Linked DNA regions of Homo sapiens: region 1 is linked to region 2. A link means that fine-mapping ties the variant in region 2 to the expression of a gene that starts in the linked region. Tissue or cell type: macrophages. Region 2 holds a variant in brackets; the other region holds the start of a gene. All regions are shown on one strand. Distances are from middle to middle.

The links. PIP is the estimated chance that this variant, and not a neighbour inherited with it, causes the effect.
Region 1: CC2D1B starts here. The variant in region 2 is fine-mapped to the expression of CC2D1B in macrophages (Nedelec 2016, PIP 0.91).

The regions. Positions count from the first base shown.
Region 1 is chr1:52,361,496-52,369,495 of GRCh38, reverse strand. CC2D1B (coiled-coil and C2 domain containing 1B) reads left to right here and starts at 3,291. Exons shown (of 25, transcript NM_001330585.2): 1 at 3,291-3,427; 2 at 4,862-4,944; 3 at 6,750-6,894; 4 at 7,880-7,983. The coding sequence starts at 4,876. It also overlaps the pseudogene PLA2G12AP1. RefSeq lists silencers at 690-769, 830-929, 2,912-3,541, 3,582-3,691 and an enhancer at 1,050-1,099.
Region 2 is chr1:52,144,236-52,152,498 of GRCh38, reverse strand. The region is part of intron 1 of ZFYVE9 (zinc finger FYVE-type containing 9); the gene reads right to left. The region is part of intron 4 of LOC107984956 (collagen alpha-2(I) chain-like); the gene reads right to left. It also overlaps the pseudogene RN7SL788P. Among named protein-coding and RNA genes, the nearest start is that of ZFYVE9, 6.3 kb to the right of the region's middle. RefSeq lists an enhancer at 4,105-4,638. The variant AAAAAAAAAAAAAAT/T (reference allele first, on the strand shown) is at 3,538.

The DNA of each region.
Region 1 (8,000 bases), 220 kb before region 2:
ACTATGTATTGCTTAAGGATACCTACACAGAAATAGAAATGCTCAGGAATAATAAACACTAAATTTAGGATAATGGGTACATCTTTGGGAAAGGGAGGTGTTGCAATATGGGAGATGTACAGGTAGCTCCAACTATGTTTGTTTTTCTTTTTTCACAAAAATCAGATAGTTTTATGTTGTAAAAACATTAGTTATTTGTCAAAGGTTATGTTCTTCCGTCTTCATCTGTCACCAGCTGTCAGCATCTCCTTTAAATATCGGTTTTTTCTTCATAATGACACCTGCATGTGGCTCGTTGGCTGTCCAGATATGGTTTACAACCTAAATGTATAACACTGTCAAACAAGAGCTCCATTGTTGTTTCACATGCCTGAACATGCTAAGTTAGTCCTAGTGTTTTCTGTACTTCTCGGCAGATCTTGGAGAGGCAATACTGGAATTTCTCATCACAGTCATTCTTGCTTTTGCCACAGTTCTCATAGCACCTGTCGTGTTAGTTGCAACACTTTGTCAGGGAAGGGATACCAATGTTAAGATGAACGCCAAACAGTGGAGAGCCACATCCATTCGGTGGGGAGGGTTTATAACCATAACGTGGGAAAGGCTTAGATCCGTCACTGCATTTATACTGGCAGAGACCGTCCTCGCCTCCCAGGAGGTCCAAGGCGGCGTTCAGGTACGTGTCTATCTTATGAACGCCGTTCCGGATGGTCTTCAGGGTGGCCCTCCAGTCGGTGGTCTAGGCCTGCTCCAGGCACCTGATAACAGCGGCCATGAGGAGGAGCAGGAGGGTGAGCGCGGGGCGCGGGAGAAGGGCCAACCGCGCAGCGCCGGGCTCTACGGGTCCCCGAGCCGCGGCGGGGGGCGCGTCCCCAAAGAGCCCCCGGGAAGCGCTAGGCAGCGGCGCGGGCCCCGGGGTTGCAGCCGCCAGCTCCATAACCACGCCTCCTTCCCGGCTGGCAGGCAGGGCCTCGCTGGCTTTACGTGAACCGCCTCGGGGAGGCAGCGCGGTCGCGGGGACGCGCCCGCTCACCTGCTTTTTTTTTTCCCTTAAACTGGTAATAGATGTCCATGTAGTTAATTCACACAACAAGGAACTATTGAGTGCCTACTATGTACCATGCACTGCTGTAGACACGAGACACTTGGAGAAGCAATAAAAAAATTTCTCCTTCTGGAGCTTGCATTCTAGTAAATGTTAAATATTGTGTATCTTTGTTTATATCTTAAATGTTTCATTATAAAAATTTTTAAATAATTTTAAAAGGAATGAGAAATATGGATGTGAAATCTCAATTTAAATATGGTAATGGGCAGGGCATGGTGGCTCACGCCTGTAATCCCAGCACTTTGGGAGGCTGATGTGGGTTGATCCCCTGAGCTCAGGAGTTTGAGATCAGCCTGGGCACATAGCAAAAACATGTTTCTACAAAAAAAAAAAAAAAAATGCTGGGCATGGTGGCACGTGCCTGTGGTCCCAGCTACTCAAGAGGCTGAGGTGAGAGGATTGCTTGAGCCTGGGAGGTGCAGGTTGCAGTGAGTGGAGATCGCACCACTGCACTCTAGCCTGGGTGACAGAATGAGATCCTGTCTCAAAAAAAAAAAAAAGAAAAAAAGTAAGCAATCAGGAGATGGAAAAGCCCTTTGTCCAAGTAAACTGGGAGATCGCTAACTAGAAAACATAATTTAAAAGTTCAAGGCATAGGCAGGAGAGGAGATGGCAATGTTTTAGACAGAAGAAACTAATCCAGCAGTTTAACTTTAAAATACATTTTAAAACTTTTTTTCCTTTCTCTTGGGTTTCAAGATACAACCTTGAAGCAAACTGCAAAAGCCTTTTCCCTTAGCTGTAAAATAGACCCCATATCCCTCCCTTTCTCACTGTATATACTCCCTTCACATTTATCTTACTGTATGCTAGTATTTAATTATCTGCCTTCTGAGAAGTTCCAAGGGCTAATCTTGAGACAGACAAACCAAGCCTGGAGACACAGCTGCAAAATTCCAAAGATTACTTCAAGGTGGCTAGTCAACAGCGGGGCCATTGTGGAGATGAGACCAGCCCACGCTCCAGGTAGGCTGGGACCCAAGATAGCCACCAGAACAAGACACACAGACGTTGTACTCTGTACAATTCTTGCATGCTTCCCATATCAAATTTTCCTTTTAAGCCGTTCTCTTTCCCCCCAAAATCGAAGTGGTTACTTTAGATGGGAATCTGGCCACTTCCCCATTACTCCGCTCTCGGTTTTTTTGTTTGTTTTAGTTTGAGACAGGGTCTCACCTTGTCACCCGGGTTGGAGTGCAGTTGACAGCTCATTGCAGCTTGGACCTCCGGGGCCACAGCGATTCTCCTGCCTCGGCCTCTCAGTAGGTAGGACTACAGGCACGCACCACCACACCCGGCTAATATTTGTAATTTTTTGTAGAGACAGGGTTTCGCCATGTTGCCCAGGCTGGTCTCGGACTCCTGAGCTCAATCTCTTGTTAACTGGACTCTGCAAGCCGCAGGGAGAAACGTGCTTTCCTTAGAAAACTAGACTAGAGCATATTTACTGATGCTAAAGAGGTTGGTTTTGTATTTCCCTGGGCAAATAATTCTCTCTGAGCCTCCGTTTCTTCTAGAGATGATGTCCATCTTGCAGGATTGAGAACTGGTATAAGCTCCATTATGAAAAGTGACTGACACAAGCTTGGCAGAAAACGGGTATACTCCGTTTCTCTCCTTAATATCCTCCATGCCATTTGATTGCACAGCAGGGTAGGCGAGTGAGAACTTAGTGTTAGACTCTGTAAAGTATTTAAGATGTGCAGCGAGCTCTGCCTGTCTGAAGTTTTCAACGGACCGGAAAAGGATACTTTCAGGTGCTGAATTATTAAGAAACATATGGTGGGCCCCATTTCCATTTCCCCAGGCTTAAAGGACATGGACAAGCAGGTGAGCCCCGCCCCTGTCTCTCTTCCAGGGCGGAGCTTGGGTAGGCCCCGCCCTCTTGCTCGGTGGGGCGGGGCGAGGGCTGGAGGCGGGGTAGGTCCAGCGAGCGAGCGAGCGCCCAGCGCCTCGGGCTGAGTGAGGGAGGAGGTTCGGTGGAGAGGCTGCAAGTGGGCGAGGGCTGGGCGCAGCGACCTCATTGGAGCCGGCCGGTGGACGCCCCGGCGGAACCGCCCAGAGTTCCTGTCCTGCGCTACCTACCCGAACGCGCCTGCGCGCTGCGAACCCCGCCCCGGTGTCACCTGTTGGAGCCCCCCGCCCGCGTAGCCGTGCACATGCGCACTGCCGGCCGCCGGCCAGTGGGGTCACGTGTTGCGCGCGAGCCACCTCCCCTGCTGGCGCTTCCTGTCGCTACCGCTGCGGCCCAGGGCCCGCGGGAGCCCAGGGCGGTGCCGGGTGAGACAAGGCCGGGGTTTGGCTCGGATTCACCGCGAGGTATGCCGCGTCCCCGCCCCTCGGCGTGGGGAGTTCTGGGGACCGCGGGGGTAGATGGAGGCGGCGCGGGCGGGGCAGGGCGGCGCGTCCCGCAGCGCGGGAGTGGGGGTCCCGTGTCGCCTCCCCCTACGGACTCCGTTGCCCACCTTCCGTGAGGCCTGGCTGTGTCATCGGGGCCGCAGCCTTGGAGTGTCTGGCCTCGCTTTCACCTGAGCCGGAGTCACTCCCGAAATCTGACACTCAGAGTCCCCCGGAGCGCCCGCCAGCTCCTCCGCCCGCTCCCCGCCGCCTCCACGCCCGTCAGCTGGTCTCCCCGCCAGCGCTGTGGCGAGATGCGCCGGCTTCCTGCCTTTTCCCCCTACCTTCTGTGCACCTCCCCTTTGGTGCCAGAATGGGGTTTCTGAAACACCGATACGATCCCGCCACTTCTTTCCCAGCGCCCTCAGAATAATGCCCAAACGCTTTTCGGCTTAGAGGTTTTCATATTCTGCCGCTTGCTCACATTTCCACCTCGGCTTGTGCATTCAGGCCTCACCGCTTATGCCCCAGTCATACCAGGCCTCAGGTTCCATTGTACAGGCCAAGCTGCTCCCCACTTCAGAGCCGTCAAGTGTTCCCTCGTCTTGGAATCCTATTTCCCTCTTTCCCCCAACTTCTTTGCGTGACTCAGCTCAGGCGTCACCGCCTCGAAGGAGGAGCCTTTTCTCCCAGGGCTGAAGAAGGGGTCACCTCAGGGCACCCATGGCCCCTGGGGCAACCCCGTGTAGTCCACCTCCACCCTGTAAATGGTCATTGAAGGCTGAGACCGTCTTAGGTTCATTTCTGCGCTCCCAGTGCCCAGCGCAAGGTCTGACACAGGAGGTCCTGTGAATAACTGTGAGATCTTTATGGGAATCAGAATGCTGAGCCAGCTTTCTCCAGAGCTCAGCTGTGAGATGGAACTTTGATGACATGTCCTTGGATGATGAAAATGTTCTGTGTGTGTGCTGTCTGGTCATAGCCCCTCACCACATATGGCTGTTAAGCACTTGGAATGTGTCTGTTGTGGCTGATGGACTGGATTTTTAGCTTTATTTCATTTTAATTCATTGAAATTTAAAATTAAATAGCCAGCTGTGGCTTCCATAAGCACAGCTTTAGAGCCTTTCTGAATTCTACCCAGCCTTCCACCCACCCTGAACCTAGAGTACTTCCCTGAATGTGCTTTTTAAATTTGAGTCCGTTCAGAACATTCCTCAGTAAACCCATTAACAGGTGATCCCCATCCCTCCCATGGCCTGTGCTGCTTCAGTGCTTTAATTAAAGGTAACCCATACTTTGGTGTTCAGCATTGCCTTCTTTGGGAGTTTACTATCCACACCTTACCACGGGTAGCACTGTTGGGGGCGTGGCTTATGGGCTACTCCAGCCTGAATCTCTGTAACTCTTCCATAGGTATCTAGGCTGCCATGATGCCAGGGCCAAGACCTCGGAAGGGCCCTCAGGCCAGAGGCCAAGGGGTGGCCGCTGCCAAGCAGGTATGGAACTTAGCCTTCTAGGCTACTGGGTCGGTTTGGGGATGGGGGTCCCTAGACAACTTAGGCAAACTGGATCACATGTAGTTCCCCCATTAGTTCAGAGACTTGGAGCAGTGCCTCCTGGAGGTGGCAGAGCCCTTAGACACCCTCCTACTAGTCTCTTCCACATACAAGTGGGGAGAGGGTTCAGGAATCACCAAAGTTTAGGATGTTCTGATGGGACCTCAGTGCTCTCAAAGGTTCCTTAGATAGGGTCACAACTTTGCTTGTTAGCCAGGGATGCCAGGGCATGAGGGCTGTAGTCAGTGGGAGGACTTCACTGCCTAGGGACAGATGGCTGTGCCCCAAGTGGAAGAACAGGGGGGTCTCCTCTCCAATTTTCTTCCTTTATTTCTTCTGGGCCTACATCTTGAGACTTCTTAGTCCATTTTTACTGTCTTTAAAAAGGCAGGTAAGAAAGGAGGTGGGGTAAAGGGCATAGACTCAAGTCGCAAAGAGCTTGTTTTAAATTCTGATTGTCTCACAAGACTGTCTCAGTTTCATCTGAACATTGGGATAAAAACAGAATGTAAGCTGGGTGCCGTGGATCACGCCTGTAATCCCAGCACTTTGGGAGGCCGAGGTGGGTGGATCACCTGAGGTCAGGAGTTTGAGACCAGCCTGGCCAACATAGTGAAACCCCATCTCTACTAAAAATACAAAAATTAGCTGGGCGTGGTGGCATGTGCCTGTATTCCCAGCTTCTTGGGAGGCTGAGGCAGGAGAATCGCTTAGACCCGGGAGGCAGAGGTTGCAGTGAGCCAAGATAGTGCCACTGCACTCTAGCCTGGGCGACAGAGCCAGACTCTGTCTCAGAAAAAAAAAAAAAAAAGGATGTACCTCTACCTAGAGTAGTCATATTCATGGAAACAGAAGAATGGTGCTTACCAGAGGCTGGAAGGAGGGGAGGAAGGGGGGTTAATGTTTAATGGGTAGAAAGTTTGTTTCACAACATGAAAACAGTTCTGTGGATGGATGATGGCGATGGTAGCAGGATATTGTGAATGTCCTTATGCCATTGAACTCACCCTTAACAGTGGTTAAGATGGTAAATTTCATGTTGTATGTGTTTTACCAGAGTTTAAAAAAATAGGACCTTCTTTTTTTTTTTTTTTTTTGAGACGGAGTCTCGCTGTGTCGCCCAGGCTGGAGTGCAGTGGCGCCATCTTGGCTCACTGCAAGCTCCATCTCCCGGGTTCACGCCATTCTCCTGCCTCAGCCTCCCGAGTAGCTGGGACTACAGGCGCCCGCCACCGCGCCCGGCTAATTTTTTGCATTTTTTAGTAGAGACGGGGTTTCACCGTGTTAGCCAGGATGGTCTCCATCTCCTGACCTCGTGATCCACCCGCCTCGGCCTCCCAAAGTGCTGGGATTACAGGCGTGAGCCACCGCGCCTGGCCAAAAAATAGGACCTTCTTCTCAGAATTGTGAGAATTAACTGAGGTGGTTAAGATAATCACATAGAACGCTAAGAACAGTGCATGATGGCAGCTATTGCTGTTGGTTGTAATAATGGTAGTGTGTTTTAAATTCTGACTCACAAGACTGTCTCAGTTTCAGTGTGGTCTTACTGGGTTTTTTGTTGAGTCCCTAGGAAGGTAAGTGTCTCAAGGAGTAATGTTGCAGGCCTCAGTTTCTTTCTGCACATTGGGCCTCACAGACTGAAGGAGCCACTGATTGGGACTTGGAGAGCCCCAAGTCTGGCTCTGGAGCTGGACCCTACCCTGCTTGTTGTGTGGTTCCTAAGAGTCCTGCTCTGCTCTCAGATGGGGCTCTTTATGGAGTTTGGCCCTGAGGACATGCTGCTGGGCATGGATGAGGCTGAAGATGATGAGGACCTGGAGGCTGAGCTGCTGGCTCTCACAGGGGAAGCACAAACCACAGGCAAGAAGCCAGCACCCAAGGGGCAGGGTGAGTTTGGACACAGGGCTGGTCTTGGTGCTGGGACAAGATGGGCACAGGCTGGTGGTAGAGGGGTTCCCTTGCAGCTGGACGGAGCCAGCCAGATCCCCTGGTCCTTCCAATACCCATCTGCCGCACTCCCACCAAGAGGCGGCCTCGCCCTGCTTCCCCACCTTGTGTCATGGCCTGGGCTGGCCCCTCCCCATTGTGGACAAATGTGTTTCTCAGACTGACTCAGGTCCCCATCCTTAGCCCTAGCCACGGTATTGGTGTAGGGTAGGGGCCCAGTTAGCACAGACTGAACTGGGTACATAGGAAGTACATAGAAATTGTGTCCAGCGAGTTAAGTGGAATCTCCCTCCACAGCCCAGATGAGAACAGAGACTTCAGGCCTGGGAGGATCAGGAGGTCTAAATCGTCCTCTCTTTTCACCGGGAACCCTCAGAGAATCCCCCCACTCATCCCCCACCATCCTGTGTGTCCCTGAGTTGAGGATAATGGGAGGACCTAGGAAGGGGCTCACTGCTCCTGCCTTGGGGTGGCACAAGCCTAGGTTTGAATCCTAGCTCTGCCACTTAAGGATTGCAGTGATAGGAAAATTAATGTTGGAAGTTTCTCAGTTTATTCAATATATGAAAAGGGGATATTATCCATCTTGCAGATTTGTTTTGAAGCTCTGTTGGACTTTGAAAATCTTTACAGATGTGAAAGGTGTTGTTGGAGGTTGGAGAGAGTGGATGGCCATGTCTATGTCAGGCTACCGTAGGCAGAGGTGCAGAGAAAGGAGCAGCTTGTTGCTTGGTGGGGGGCCAAGGAAGGTTTCCCTGTTGAGGGTCTTTTGAACTGGGTCTTAAAGGAAGAGCAGTTTTCCAGGTGGGACTCTGCTGTGGGAGGGAAGAGGGATTTCTGCCTGGGTGGATCTACCAAGCCCCTCCTTTACTCATCCCTGAACTTATCTGAGTTGTGCTGACTTGTTGTGACCTTTTTCCCCCAGCCCCCCTGCCCATGGCCCACATCGAGAAGTTGGCGGCAGACTGTATGCGGGATGTGGAGGAGGAGGAGGAGGAGGAAGGGCTGGAGGAAGATGCAGAGCTGCTGGTGTGTCTGCCAGGCTG
Region 2 (8,263 bases):
AATAATACTGCTAATATTCTAATAACGTGCAGAATGAGCACCTTCAGGAAGTAATCAGGGCCTATCATCTGAGAGTTCAAAGTCTCGGATACGGTGAGGGTGAGACTTTAAAAAACAGGTAAAAGTTGACCTACATCAGTAAAGGGTATTAATTACTAAGGCCTACGTGGAAAAAAGGGGTTCCACAACCAAATAAGTTTGGGTAATATAGCCAGGCACACTGGCTCATGCCTGTAATCCCAGTACTTTAGGAGGCTGAGGCAGGTGGATCATCTGAGGTCAGGAGTTCGAGATCAGCCTGGCCAACATGGTGAAATCCCATCTCTACTAAAAATACAAAAATTAGCCAGACATGGTGGTGCATGCCTGTAATCCCAGCTAATCAGGAGGCTGAGGCAGGAGAATTATTTGAACCTGGAAGGCGGAGGTTGCAGTTAACCAAGATGGTGCCACTGCACTCCAGCCTGGGTAACAAGAGCAAAACTCCATCTCAAAAAAAAAATTGGGGTAATACATAGCTGAACAAAGTTAAACAAGTTTCTTCCACTCCTCAGTCTTTAGAATACTAACGTGCATTTGCAAACTTCTACCTAAGGGATATATAGTAAGCTGAAAACCCAAACTTATTTGACTAAAGAACATCTCCTTGCTCCTAGGGAACATACTTTAGAAATCCTGGATGGGCTCAGAGAGGTGGCTCATGTCTCTAATCCCAGCACTTTGGGAGGCCGAGGCGGGTGGATCACTTGAGGTCAGGAGTTCCAGACCAGCCTGACCAACATGGTGAAACCTTGTCTCTACTAAAAATACAAAAAATTAGCCAGGTGTAGTGGTGGGTGCCTGTAGTCCCAGCTACTCGGGAGGCTGAGGCAGGAGAATTGCTTGAACCCGGGAGGCAGAGGTTGCAGTGAGCCGAGACCACACCACTGCACTCCAGCCTGGATGACAGAGCGAGACCCCATCTCAAAAAAAAAAAAAGAAAAAACACACATACACACACACATAGACACAGGACAAGATTCACAGGATGAAAAAAGAGTGTGGACTTTCTAGTCAGAGATATATGAGCTTGATATATAAGTTTGAATCATCAATGTGGGCTTAAGCTTAGGAAAATCAATAAAACTCTCCAAGCCTCAGTTCCCTCAGCTGTAAAATGCATAATAATATAATGACCTTATAATATCCTTAGTAAGAGTTACAAATAACATATGTGAAACACTTACCAGAAAGATGGCACACTACAGGGAAAGCTTTTATATTCCACAAAAAGTAATACAAGGTAAAAGAATCAAGGAAAACTCCATAAACCTGGAATCTTGGAAGAACAGGATGCAAAAACAGGAGGGAGGAATGATCAGCTTGGAACCAAATCATGAAGGCTGTATGCCAGGTTAAAGAATCTCAACCTTGCTTTTTAAACACTGAGCAGAAATTTCCATGAGTGACCTCACAATAACTTCAAAAATAATTTACCTCGGCTACTACTACTAAAAAAAAAAAAAAAAAGACAATTATCACCAGAATCACAAAAAGGCCTACATGATGTACTGTGAAGTTCAAGTTTCAAACTGGCAGTGTTTTATTTTAATTACCTTTTAGGGACTGTTTCTCCTGCTCAACTGAAAATGAAAAATGGAGATTAAAGTTTGTATAAATCCTGACAGGGTGTTTTTACAAAATTTTGACATTGCTTGTTCTATCTTTTCTTCTTTTTTTTTTTTTTTAAGACAGTATGTTCCCCTGTTGCCCAGGCTGGCGTGCAGTGGCGTGATCTCGGCTCACTGCACCTCCCCTCCGGGTTCCCAGGTTCAAGCGATTCTCCTGCCTCAGCCTCCTGAGTAACTGAGATTACAGGGGCCCAACGCCACGCCCAGCCAATTTTTGTATTTTTAGTAGAGACAGGGTTTCACAATGTTGGCCAGGCTGATCTTGAATTCCTGACCTCAAGCGATCCATCCACCTCGGCCTCCCAAAGCGTTGGGATTACAGGCATGAGCCACCGTGCCTGGCCCTATATATCTCATCTATCTAGCTATCTATCTAGCTATCATCTATCATCTATCTATCTATCTATTTAGAGATTAGGTCTCACTATGTTGCCCAGGCTGGAGTGGGGTGGCTATTCTCAGACATGATCCCACTACTGATCAGCATGGGAGTTTTGAGCTGCTCCATTCCCAGCCTGGGCCAGTTCACCCCTCCTTAGGCAACCTGGTGGTCTCCGACTTCCAGGAGGTCACCCCCTCTCAGGAGGTCACCATACTGATGCCAAACTTAGTGCAAACACTGATCAGCATAGCACACTACAGCCCAGAACTCCTGGGCTCAGGCAATCTTCCCGCCTCAGCCTCCCAAGTAACTGAGACTAGACGCACATGCCACCACACCAGTCAGTTTATTTTAGTAAAGAGAATTTTGAGATAGACTCTGTTGGGCTATGTAACATATAAAAATATGTACAATTTACTCTTTCTTCATTTTAATAAAATGAAATCTCACAGATAAACAGCAAACTTTAATCATGAAAGGTTAGAAAAGAACCAAACTATATTGCAAACAGAAATGCATATCTTTTCATTAATCCTACCAGAAAGGCTCCAGAACTACTGTTTTTGTAACTTTATACGGAAACTATATCATCCAAAGGAACTAAAAGATTGTATAATAAACCAGAACAAGCCTTTCAGCTTAAAATCACCACTACAGGCCGGGCAGTGGCTCACACCTGTAATCCCAGCACTTTGGGAGGCCAAAGCAGGTGGATCACGAGGTCAGGAGTTCAAGACCAGCCTGGCCAAGATAGTGAAACCCCGTCTCTACTAAAAATACAAAAATTAGCCACGCGTGGTGGCAGGGCATACCTTGAATGAGTAACCAAAACATCGGGTAATATTCTACATACAAGACAAACAATGACATTTGTATTTATATAAAATTATGTATCATTGAGAGGTAACGGCAATTCTTAAAATCTGTCATGCCTGACTGCCTAGAAATGTTAATATGAAACTAGACTGTAAATTTTTAGAAATGTTTCAGTAGAGTTAAAGAAAAACTAAACTCAGGCATTACAATTGCCTTTTCTTAAGAAATATTCATATTGCCCAGGCGCGGTGGCTCACGTCTGTAATCCCAGCACTCATTCAAGGTATTAAAGCCTTCCTATGAGGTTTTTTAGGACATAGTTCAAAGTCAGCAATAATTACTTGCTAATGTTTCTAAAGTTTTTTTTCAAACCAGTTAGGAAATACTACAGGGAACCATTGTTTGAGTAAACAAAGTGCAAGTTTTAGACCTTCATTCTACATGTTCAAGATCAGCCTGGTCAACACGGCAAAACCCCATCTCTACTCAAAATACAAAAATTAGCGGTGCATAGTGACAGGCGCCTGTAGTAACAGCTACTCGAGAGGCTGGGTCAGGAGAATTGTTTGAACTGGGAGGTGGAGGTTACAGTGAGCCAAGATCACACTACTGCACTCTAGCCTGGTTGACAGAGCGAGAGTCTATCTCAAAAAAAAAAAAAAAAAAAAA[AAAAAAAAAAAAAAT/T]CATGTTAAGGCTGGGAACAGTGGCTCATTCCTGTAATCCCAGCACTTTGGGAGGCCAAGGCAGGCAGATCACTTGAGGTCAGTTTGAGACCGGCCTGGCCAACATGGTGAAATCCCGTCGCTACTAAAATTACAAAACTTATCCAGGCATGGTGGCGCGCACCTGTAGTCCCCGCTACCAGGGAGGTTGAGGCAGGAGGATCGCTTGAATCTGGGAGACAGAGGTTGCAGTGAGCCAAGACTGCGCCACCGCACTCCAGCCTGGGCAACAGAGCAAGACTCCATCTCAAAAAAAAAAAAGAAAGAAATATTCATATTAATAGAAGACAGCCTTTTATACAGCTGAAGTCCTCACACCACCATTCCTATCACCACCCAATGTGGTTAATCAGTTCTATTAACCAGAGTTCACTGTTTACTAAACAGGAAACTAGAAAGTTTACAGCTTTTTTTGTTTTTGAGATGGAGTTTCGCTCTTCTTGCCCAGGCTGGAGTGCAATGGTGCAGTCTTGGCTCACTGCAACCTCCGCCTCCCTGGTTCAAGCAATTCTCCTGTCTCAGCCTCCCAAGTAGCTGGGATTACAGGTATCTGCCACCATATAGTGGTGATTTTGAACCGAAAGGCTTGTATTTTCAGGAGAGACAGAGTTTCACCATATTGGCCAGGCTGGTCTCGAACTCCTGACCTCAGGCGATCGGCCCACCTCAGCCTCCCAAAGTGCTGGGATTACAGGCGTGAGCCACAGCGCCTGGCCTACAACTTTTATCCTCAGGCCAAAAACATTCCCTATCATCAAAGAATCTGGCAATGCATCTGCAAGTAAAAGCTTCAACAATTTACCTAATGACTGTAAATAAAAGTTATTAACCAGGAGCATGGTGGCTCATGCCTGTAATCCCAGCACTTTGGGAGGCTGTGGGTGGATCATTTGAGGTTAGTAGCTCCAGACCAGCCTAGCCAACATAATGAAACCTCGCCTCTATTGAAAAAAAAAAAGTTATGAACCGCAGATAGAGCCTTACATTACCACTTCACACTCATTAGGATGGTTATAATCAAAAAAACAGATAACAAGTGTTGGTGAGGACGTGAAGAAATTGGAACCTTCATACAACGCAGGTGGGATTGTAAAAAGGTGCAGCTACTTTGTAAAAACAATCTGATAGTTTCTCGAAAGGTTAAACATACAGCTACCATTTGGCCCAGCAATTCCATCCCTATAAATACCCAAGAGAAATGAAAGCATATTTCCACACAATAATTTGCACATGAATGTTCACAACAACATTATTTATAGTAGCCAAAAAGTGGAAACAGCCCTAACTGATGAATAAAATGTGGTATTTCCATACAATGGAATATTATTCAGCAATAAAAAGAAATGAAGTACTGACACTTGCTACTGAACCCTAAAACTATTATGCTAAGTAAGAGAAACCAGTCATATATCGTATGATTCCACTTACATGAAATGTCTCGATAGGCAAATCCATAGAGGCAGAAAGTACATTAGCGGTTGCCTAGGGCTGGGAGGATTAGGGAGATCCTGGGAGTGACTGTTAATGGGTACAAGTTTCTCTTTGGAGTGATTAAAATGTTCTAAAATTAGACAGCAGTGATGTTTGCACAACTCTGTGAATATATAATACTGTTCTAACTTTTCCAGTTCCGTAAATGGGCTATTTACCATAATTTAAAAGAAAAATATAAGTATTAATTAATTTGTAAAATAGAAAATACTTTATGCGTTGAGTATCCCTTATCTAAAATACTTGGAACCAGAAGCATTTGGGACAGATTAGAATTCTGACGCAAGTCTAAACACAAAATTCATTTGTTTCATGTATACTTATACGCATAGCCTAAAGGTAACTTTATACACTATTTTTAATAATTTTGTACATGAAACAAAGTTTTGACCATTTTGATTGTGACCCATCACATGAGATCAGGCGTGGAATTTTTCCACTTGTGAGATCATGTCAGTGCTCAAAAAGTTTTGGACCTTTGAGCATTTCGAATTTCAGACTTTTGGATTAGGGATGCTCAACCTGTAAAAACAGCACTTTTCAAATTATTTTATTAAATAAATTTTACCATTATAAAATATAAGGTATTCTACTACATAACTAAATGCTAATTCTACTGACACCTTGGTTCCTCCTTAATTTAGCAATCTCTAATACTTCAAAATTAGATTATGCTGATTTTACTTATTAATAGTAAACTACATAAATAATTAACAATCTTTCAACCTCTTTTTTTCAAAACTCAGAGAAATATATTTTCCAATTCCAGAGTCCGGATTTACCAGGACTCATGGGACTGAACTATAGCTCTGATTTACCCATTATATCATTTAATACTTACAATAATCCTGTAAGGTGACTATTATCAGTTGCATTTTATAGAAAAGAAAATTGAGACTTAAAGAGGGTAACAAACTTGTCCAAGGTTATAAGAAAAGACTGGCAGGCTATAAAATCTAGTTCTAGCCTACTGTAGTTTATAAGGAAAAATCTATGTTCTGAAAACAGTTCTTAAGTAAATTTAATAAATTGAGAGTTTTTTGAAAACTAAATATATGAACTATTTCTATTCAGTGCCTGCAACTACATCTTTTCCAATGATTATTATATACAGTTGTCTCTCTGTATCTGTGGAGGACTGGTTCCAGGAACCCACAGGATACCACAATCTGTGGATGCTCAAATCCCTTATATAAAATGGCACAGTATTTGCATATAACCTATGAACATCCTCCTGTATACTTTAAATAATCTCTAGACTACTTACAATGCCAAATACAATTGTAAGTGCTATGCAAATCAACTGTTATACTGTATTGGGTTTTTATTTGTATTATTTTTATTATTGTATGATTACTTTTGTGTGTGTGTGTGTGTGTGTGTGTGTGTGGATATTTTTGAGCCTTGGCTGGGAGGACCCACAGATACAGAGATCTGACTGTACTAAGAATGTTGCTCTATATAATGCAGGTCAAGTATACACAAGTAAAATTAAAGATCAATGTAAAACTCTGAAAATAAATAATTTGCAACAAGTGTACCCTATATAAAGGGAATACTAATTTATTGGCTAAAAATGAAATGGAAAACATACTAAAATCGAAATTGTTTTCCATAAAAAATTCCAAATCCCAAAAGTAGACTTAGTCTAAAAAAAATAAAGCAACCAAGTTTTAAGTCATGCAGAAATCCCAATGCCTGATTTTTGTTTTTCCCAAAAGGAAGAAAGAAATGTACATTTATTGAGCACCTCCTACATGACAAACACTGAGCTAATTGCTTTCGGTTACTTTTATCTCATGGAACCTGTTCTACTTTGCTAGGAGGGGTAGTGTTACCCCAATAGTACATAAGAAACTCAGAATCTAAATGTCACATCGCTTTAAGAGGTGTAGTAAGGATTCCTGCTCACATCTGACTCCATACTCTGTACCACATTATGCAATTAACAACCATAAAACACACATATATACGCCATATCTTTAGGAACATAAGAACTTAAGCTAAAATCCAGGCAATTATCTTTTAAACAAGCTTTGTGCCTTGCAACCAGTCTGTGGCTAGCACGTTTACAAGGTGCCACATAAAAGTTTACTGAATGGAATGAACAGTGGTAGCTTAGCAACAGAGGAAGGAATTATCATCTCTACTCACTCTACCTTTCTAAAAGAGTTAATAGGAAACTATCACCAGGCAATATAAGCAATTATTTCCTTAAAGAAAACACTGAATCAGGAATTGGAAGAGAAAGGAATAATCATACATAAAAAGTATTATCAATGTCCTTAAACGGCAAGATGAGACACAGAAGCCTTAAACAGAGATTTAGCACGTTCCACTCAATTTCAACACTTGTCTGACCTACCTTGTAACAGTTAATTAAAGGTATCCTGCTTCCACAGGACAAGTTTAGTAGAGCCCTTGGTCATTTTTGTGTTTCCTGGAATACCTATAACAGGACCTGGCACTTAAAAGCCAAAATTGTATAAAAATCTTTTACAGATTATAATACCTTTTCAGATTTATTTATCCTAAAAGCCTCGCAAGGTAAGCATAATAACTGAAGTATATGCATTTTACAGACAATGACATTGGTGTCCATTAAGTGCCAAAGTAAATGACAAGGTATTCTTTTAGCACACCACAGCTATCACAGGAGGCTCTCAATAAATGGTTGCTGATTGGATCAGCTGTCCCTCAAAATATCACTTTTCTTTCTAAGATTATTTACTACGAAAAATGACATCCTTTGAGCTGGAGCTGCAAGGAAGTAAAAAAAAAAAAAAAAGAAAGAAATGACTATTGCCACTAAAGACTTATAGTTTTGCTAGAAAATAGACACCTTCCTTCGGCTCAGCAAGGTTAGTTAATTTTAAACTTACTGTATCAGTGATTCTCAAACTTTAGTAGGTCTAAGAATCAGGGAGACTGATAAAAATAAAGTTCTTTGGGCCATCGTCATCCCTAGAATTTCAATTCAAGGGACCAAGAATCTGCATATTACATATAATACTTATATATATAACAAGCACTCTCAACTGATTCTAATGTTGGTGGTCTTGAGGGACACACTGAGAACTGTATTCAACTTTTTTTTTTTGAGATGGAGTCTCGCTCTGTTGCCCAGGCTAGAGTCAGTGGCCCAATCTTGGCTCACTGCAACGTCTGCCTCCCAGGTTCAA